2 linked regions of the Homo sapiens genome follow. The protein of the gene in region 2 interacts with the protein of the main gene of each other region in a pairwise test. Each region holds a gene or a part of one and is shown on either strand. Other genes may lie near its edges.

What was found. Proteins that work in one complex are often made in the same cells at the same time.
Region 1: the proteins of DAPP1 (region 2) and WDR20 interact in binary tests that used the Homo sapiens proteins (3 or more experiments, as listed by UniProt).

The regions. Positions count from the first base shown.
Region 1 is NC_000014.9:102,142,802-102,146,553, reverse strand, and holds part of WDR20 (WD repeat-containing protein 20), read right to left. Parts: intron 1-3,752. UniProt on the Homo sapiens protein: Regulator of deubiquitinating complexes. Activates deubiquitinating activity of complexes containing USP12. Anchors at the base of the ubiquitin-contacting loop of USP12 and remotely modulates the catalytic center of the enzyme.
Region 2 is NC_000004.12:99,815,101-99,818,852, reverse strand, and holds the start of DAPP1 (dual adapter for phosphotyrosine and 3-phosphotyrosine and 3-phosphoinositide), read right to left. Parts: upstream 2,027-3,752; 5' UTR 1,940-2,026; coding exon 1,839-1,939; intron 1-1,838. UniProt on the Homo sapiens protein: May act as a B-cell-associated adapter that regulates B-cell antigen receptor (BCR)-signaling downstream of PI3K.

The DNA of each region.
Region 1 (3,752 bases), on a different chromosome or scaffold from region 2:
TAATCAGGATCTAAAAATACTTTAGCTTTTATCAACTGACTCTTCTTCTGGCCCCAACTTCATCTCAGCATCATGAACATAAAGCTCTTCTAGCCGGGCATGGTGATTCACACCTGTAATCCCAGCACTTTGAGAGGCCGAGACGGGTGGATCACAAGGTCAGGAGTTCAAGACCAGCCTGGCCAAGATGCTGAAACCCTGTCTCTACTAAATATACAAAAATTAGCTGGGCATGGTGGCAAGTGCCTGTAATCCCAGCTACTTCGGAGGCTGAGGCAGGAGAATCGCTTAAAACCCGGGTGCCAGAGGTCACAGTGAGCCAAGATCAAGCCACTGCACTCCAGCCTGGGCGACAGAGCAAGACTTCGTCTCAAAAACAAACAAACAAACAAACAAACAAAAAAACTCTTCCAGCATAAATACCTAGAAATCACAATGTTTTCAGCTTGCTTTCCCAAACACCCCACCCCTCTCAATTCCAAATCAAGTAGGCAATGAATCAAAGAGATGAAGATACCTCCCCAATAGAATGATGAATCCATTTCCATTTAAAAAAAAAAAAAACAACTGAGTACAGAATCATATAAGCTTTAGAGATGGAAAAACCTTAGAATCCTCTAAATCTACTTCCTACCTCCTGTAGTTACCACTTCAGTAACTTCTCTGGGCAGTACATTTGTGACCTGGAATCTTAAGATGTGGGAAGGTAGGAAGGTTCTTTGGCTTGAATGTTAAGTAATTCTGAGTATAGTTTTTGTTTATTATTGATTGTTTTGTTTTTTTGAAACAGGCTCTCACTCTCTTGCCCGGGCTGGAGTGCAGTGGCACGATTACAGCTCACTGCAGCCTCAACCTCCCCAGTTCAAGTGACCCTTCTACCTCAGCCTTCCAAGTAGGTGGGACTAGAGGCACATGACACCACGCCCACCCTTGTAGAGACAGGGTTTCACTATGTTGTCCAGGCTGGTCTCGAACCCACACGAGGTTTCACTGTGTTGCCCAGGCTGGACCCCTGCAATCCTCCCGCCTTGGCCTCCCAAAAGTGTTAGGATTATAGGTATGAGCCACCACTCCTGGCCTGAGAACAGTTTTTAAAAGTTGTACATGGATCTTGTAGGTGACATGGTTTGACAGAAGTAGATCAAAAGTAATCTGTGTCATTTGTTTACTATTACTTCATTGTCTCTTACACGATTTCCCTATTTTAAGAAGGTTAAATTTTTTACCTACTAGCAATATTTTTAAATGTCTTTTAAAAGATATGAGCTATTAAAAAATACCCAAGTTACTTTTGGGCCCAAAACTGAATAGGTTTTTCATCTTCTAAAGATCTCTTTCAAGTTTGGTATAGACAGACATGGCTTTACTCAGTCATTCACTCAACAAGTACACAGCAAGGGCCTAACTCTAAACTGGACACTGCACTGTGCATTGAGAAGATGGAGAGCAGGAAAGATAATGTCCCTATTCTAAGGGAGCTTTGTTTTATAGAAGGCACAGTTGGATCATCACACAGAATTACAAATTCAGAAAAGTGCTAGGAAGGCAAAGCACAAGATGCTCTAAGAACATAGAGCCTGTAATCCCAGTGCTTTGGGAGGCTGAGGCAGGTGAATCACTTGAGGCCAGGAGTTCAAGACCAGCCTGGCCAACATGGCAAAACCCCGTCTCTATTAAAATACAAAAATGAGCTGGGCATGGTGGCACATGCCTGTAATCCCAGCTACTCGGGAGTAGCCCAAGAATCACTTGGGCCCGGGCGGCAGAGGTTGCAGTGAGCCAAGATCACATCACTGCACTCCAGCCTGGGCAACAGAGCAAGATTCTGTCTCAAAAACAAAAAAAAAAACAAAACAAAAAAACATGTAATAGGGTAAAACTGATACACCATGGGGATTCAAAGAAAAATTTCCTGAGGAAGTGATGGTTAAGCTGAGATCTGAATGGAGGCCATTCATATTTATGTAAAAACAGATGTCCATAAAATGAGAGGATTGGTCCAATAAGCCCAGCTACCTTACCTTTGGCATCTTTTATCCTACATCCTAAAACAATCTTTTTTTTTTTTTTTTGAGACAGAGTCTAGCTCTGTCGCCCAGGCTGGAGTGCGGTGGTATGATCTTGGCTCACTGCAACCTCCGACTCCAGGGTTCAAGTGATTCTCCTGCCTCGGCCTCCCGAGTAGCTGGGACTATAGGCAAGCACCACCACGCCCAGCTAATTTTGTATTTTTAGTAGAGATGGGGTTTTACCATGTTGGCCAGGCTGGTCTCAAACTCCTGACCTCAGGTCATCTACCTGCCTCGGCCTCCCAAAGCGCTGAGATTACAGGTGTGAGCCATGGCGCATAGCCCCACTCCCCTTTTTTGTTGTTTTAAAGAAAGGGTCTCATTCTGTTGCCCAGGTTGGGGTACAGTGGCACAATCATAGCTCACTGTAACCTTAACTCTTCGGCTCAAGAGCCCTCCTCGCTTCCCAAGTAGCTGTGACTACAGGCACATACCACCATGGCCAGCTAATTTTTTTTTTATTATTTTTTTGTGGACACAGGGTATTGATATATTATCCAGGCTGGTCTCAAACTCCTGGGCTCAAGCGATCCTCCCACCTCAGTCTCCCAAAGTGCTGGGATTACAGGTATGAGCCACTGCACCCGACCACAATCTCTTTTTTTAAAAAAGGAGAACAAAGTATGTAATAAAGATGTTTACGGCCGGGCGCAGTGGCTCACGCCTGTAATCCCAGCACTTTGGAAGGCCGAGGAGGGTGGATCACGAGGTCAGGAGTTCGAGACCAGCCTGGCCAATATGATGAAACCCCATCTCTACCAAAAATACAAAAATTAGCTGGGCGTGGTGGTACGCACCTGTAGTCCCAGCTGCTCGGGAGGCTGAGGGAGGAGAATCGCTTGAACCTAGGAGGCAGAGGTTGCAGTGAGCCGAGATTGTGCCACTGCACTCCACCCTGGGTGACAGAGCTAGACTTTGTCTCAAAAAAAAAAAAAAGATGTTTAAAAGCTAGTAGTTGAAAGTCTTTTGGGGAGAGGGACAGGGTCTTATTTAGCTCTGAATACCTCACATCACCTTGCCTGGTATTATTACTATCACAGTAGTCACTCAAATCTGGTAAAATGATTAGTGTCAGTATTAAATCAATGTTAATACTGTCTTTAAATAAATTTGCAAAACTACATCTCCTCACACAAGAAACCCCACTCTAAACTTCCTCGATTGTGAAAAGATGTTTTAATCTACCTCAAGAATTTAATAAAATAATATATGGCAAAATGCCGGGGTAGATTCTGAAGTGCTCGGAGTATATAATATCCCTGTGATCAAAAAGGTGGATCAGTCTCTTCTAAGCTGGTTTAGACTCAGCTGTGCTTCATTTTCCTTACTATGAGAAAAAATTCTAACAGGTTTGCATCCCCTCTCTGGCCTTGGTTCGCTCTGAGGAGGGTGAAATAACAAACTCTAAAGTTCCTTCTAGCTCCAGACACTGACCTGTAAACCTTTTAAAAGGATCAAGATTGCACTCCTCAGCATGAACGTTAGACTACTTCCTCACCTACTCCATTTCCCCAGGACCCCATGTTTCCTCTCAGGAATGGTAGCACGTAATTAATGAGTTAAGTTCTTTAAAAGACCTATTTTCTACTCATTTTACACACAGACTTAAGTTGAATTTACTCATCTAAATTAGATCTTCTGAATAATCCAAATAATTATTGTAAAATTTTACACGCCTCAAAG
Region 2 (3,752 bases):
CAAGATGTTCCAGAGCACAGCCAAGGTCAAGAACCAGGACTGTAGAGCAGTTTTCCCAGATAACTGCAGGTTGCCCATTGCTATAGAAATCATCCTCATGTTTATTAATTGTTCACGCCTTCTGAAATAGGGAAATCTGGCCATGAATGTACCCTTTTTTTTTTGCAGGGAAGTGGTGTGACTCAGTTTTGTATTCAATGTCTATTCTTTGCACATGGAGGAAAGACACAGTCCTATTCCACCCGTGGGTTTCACCTGTAGTTGCTTCTTGCTGTTGACATCATGGTGGGGCACAGAGACAGCATCTAATTCATCTTTGTCATCTAAGTGTGTTCCCACAGTACTCAACCATAGACTCTGGGTTCTAGGATTGTTTGTTTAACTAAAGGACCAGAATTGAATATATTCCTCTATCTCCTCCTTTGGGGTTTTCTATTACAGTGGGCTGGGAATACAGTTAACAGAACATGTAAAGCATTGTAACTTAATAGTTCAATAAGACACTGAGGGCCACAGTTCAGCTTTAGCTTTTGGACTTGGTGACACCTGTGCTGGATGCTCACAGAAGGGCCTTTTACCTCTTCTGTTTGGGGATTCAATCTAGAGGGATAGAGAGATTCTAGAGCTCTGGCTTCCTAATAAGGGGAGTTTTCTTTAATGAAAATTCCAGGTGTTTTATCTGATTTGCCAAATGAAAGTAGAGTTCAATTCCGAGACCTCAGTTTTATAATCTAAAGACAGGAATTATTAATAAACTTTTACAGTAATACAACATAAAAAGATACAATCTCTGCAGCCTTAACACAGAGAGATTTCAACTCTATTTTGGTTTTTCTTTGGTTTCGGACATAGCCTGTGGTAGGTTGGATGCCCAGCTTTGCTATGTAATTGATGTGTGACTAGCAAGCAAGTTATTCAAACCTGTTTGGTACTTGTTTTCATCCTTTGTAAGATGAAGATGACAACAGCTCCTATGTCATTGGATTGCTATGAAGAGTTAGAGCTATTTGTCCAGGCAGAAGGTAAAGGTTTTGCCTCTCCTCATGCACAGGTGTCAAAGCCACCTTCATTGGGATATTCCCAGTGCATTAGGCAGTTTCTCTGGGAAATCCCCAATTCCTCTCTTGTGTAATACTTGTTTCTTATTAAATACCCGGATGAGTTGTCATCTGGGTCCCTTCTTAAAGACAGAGCTCCAATGACTCCACCTACCTATGCTTACCTGTTTGAAGCAGAAATTTTATCCTCTTCCTGGATTGTTGGTACTGAAAGGCTCAAAGTTGGCTCTCTGGACATACATACGATATCAAATCTCACAAATGCAGTATCAGGAGAAAGAAATATACAAGCGAGACTGTTGCAGGAACTTCCTCATTCTCTGTCTTTTGAAAAAGTCCCTCTCCCTTACAGTAGGGTAAGCTTTCTGTTTATCTTACCAGAAACACAGTCCTTTTACTGTCCCTGGGTCAGTGCTAGAAACTCTTGAACAGCGCATTTATTCATAAACCAGAGCAACATCAAGGAAGCCAGGCAACATCACCTCTATATCCCAATTCTGTCCCTCTTCTCAAAGAATGTCCAACATTTGATTTTTTTCCCTATTTTCTCAACCAACTTGTTTTCACATCTAGAAAAATAATGCCTGCTTTTCCAATGGAATTAGCCCCAGACAAGAAGATACTTAACAGATACAAATGAATAAAGTGGAAAAAAATAAATGGTTGAGGTGGCAGAGGGCAACAAGGCACTGAAGATAGTCATTAATCAAAGCATGCAGGTGGGAGTGCGGAGTCAATGTCCACCCACTAGGTACTTTGAAAGGAGATCTGCTGCCTTACCCCAAGTCCTGGAGCAGCTCAGCCTCTCCATCGGATCTGCTCCACAGATCTGAGGGATCCTGGGTGCTCATCTTCCCTTCTAGAAGTTCTGCTCTGCCCATTCGCGCCCTTCACAGAGGTAGAGAGAGAGACACAACTGGGCTGCTCCTGACACCTTCTCGCTCTGTGAGACAGCAGCCTGCTATGGCTCTGAGTCTCCAAGGCAAGGAAGTGAAACTTGGTTACTTACTCCTCCCACCAACACCACCACCCTGGCCTGGAGGCACTGGCAGGAGTGTTCTGTCAGTCAGGAAGTATGCAAACTTAGGTAGCTACCTCTGAGGACACCCACACTACATCACGCAACAGGCGGTTGCTATCAAAGGAAATGAAGAGGCAACCACCCCACCTGGGATTGGACAACAGTGCAAACTGCTTGTGTGAGGCCAAACCCTAGCTTCTCCCTAATGCTATCAGCCTCTGGTTTGTAGTGGAGGATGCGTGCACTCTTTTACCCCATCTTCTTTCTGTCTTACACACCAACACAGGGAACACTGAGGAAGCTTCTCTATCAGGAACACCTTTAGAGTGGATAGAAAAAGCAGAAGCAAACCACAAATTCGACCCTGAAGTTTGATGTTTTAGCACTTTTGCAATATTTCTGCTTGTTTACCCAGACCTTCTAATATATCCTCAATGCTCCGAATAGGGATGATTCAGAGACAATTATTGTTTCCTCCACAGAAAAAGAATTAGGAGAGGAGAAGGTAGGAAAAAGTTACAAGGGGCCATTCTGGTGCCCACCTAATGGGGCATATTAGAACTCCTGGAGTCTTTTTTTTTTTTTTTTTTTGAGACAGTCTCGCTCTGTCACTCAGTCTGGAGTGTAATGGCATGACCTGAGATCACTGCAACCTCCACCTCCCAGGGTTCAAGTGATTCTTCTGCCTCAGCCTCCCAAGTAGCTGGTATTACAGGCACCCGTCATCATGCTCTGCTAATTTTTGTGTTTTTATAGAGACAGGGTTTCACCCTCAGGTGATACACTCACCTCGGCCTCCCAAAGTGCTGGGCTTATAGGCATGAGCCACTGCACCTGGCCTGAACTCCTAGAGTCTTTGAGTGCCACTTCCTTCATGGGCTTACTCACACCTGCATGGCTTTGTGCCCAGATTCATATGTAGAGCAGGATTCTATCTGCCTGGAATGCTAAAGGTAAATTGCAGTGACTGAATCCTTGGGAAGTGGAACAAAGTGCAGTATCAAATGAGTCAAGGACATATGTTGCTTCCTGCCTTTTCTATGTACCTACAGGTCTCTCTCTCCCTCTCCCTTTCTCTCTCTCTCTTCCTATCTCTACTCCCTGACTCATTCAGCACTCACCACAGTGCTCTGTAACTTGTTCTCACAGTGTGGCCTGAGGACTAAACAGCACAGCAGAACTGTTCCTAAAGGACTAGATGATTGCAAAAGGCTGCTGTGCAATGGTTCTATCCTTCATCTTCCTCCCTATTACCACTGTTCACCCGGGATCGGTGAGACCCGGGTAACACTGGTTGCCAGTGGGAAGTTCCTGAGTGTCTGGAGGCAGTCTGCTGAAGACTAAGCTCTGATAATACATATATAACTGACTAAATGAGCACTTAAATTCTTTTGGCTACAGTTTGCTCACAGAGAAGGACAGGGCCCACTTGAACAGAGAGGCCAGTGCAGGCCAGGGAGATACTGAATATGCATACAGCAGTGACAGGGGAACAGCCTGGGCACTAGAGTTCCTGTTCCCTCTCTAGAGCCCTTTATTTGGTGTTTTAGTATCTATTTCATTCCCATTTTTAGCAAATTCTGGTTGTTCTTTTTCTTAACTTTTTTGGAAGTACAAGTAGCAGAATTTTCTAAGATCGTCCTGCTTTTCTGGCTGAATCTTCCTGCCTTTTG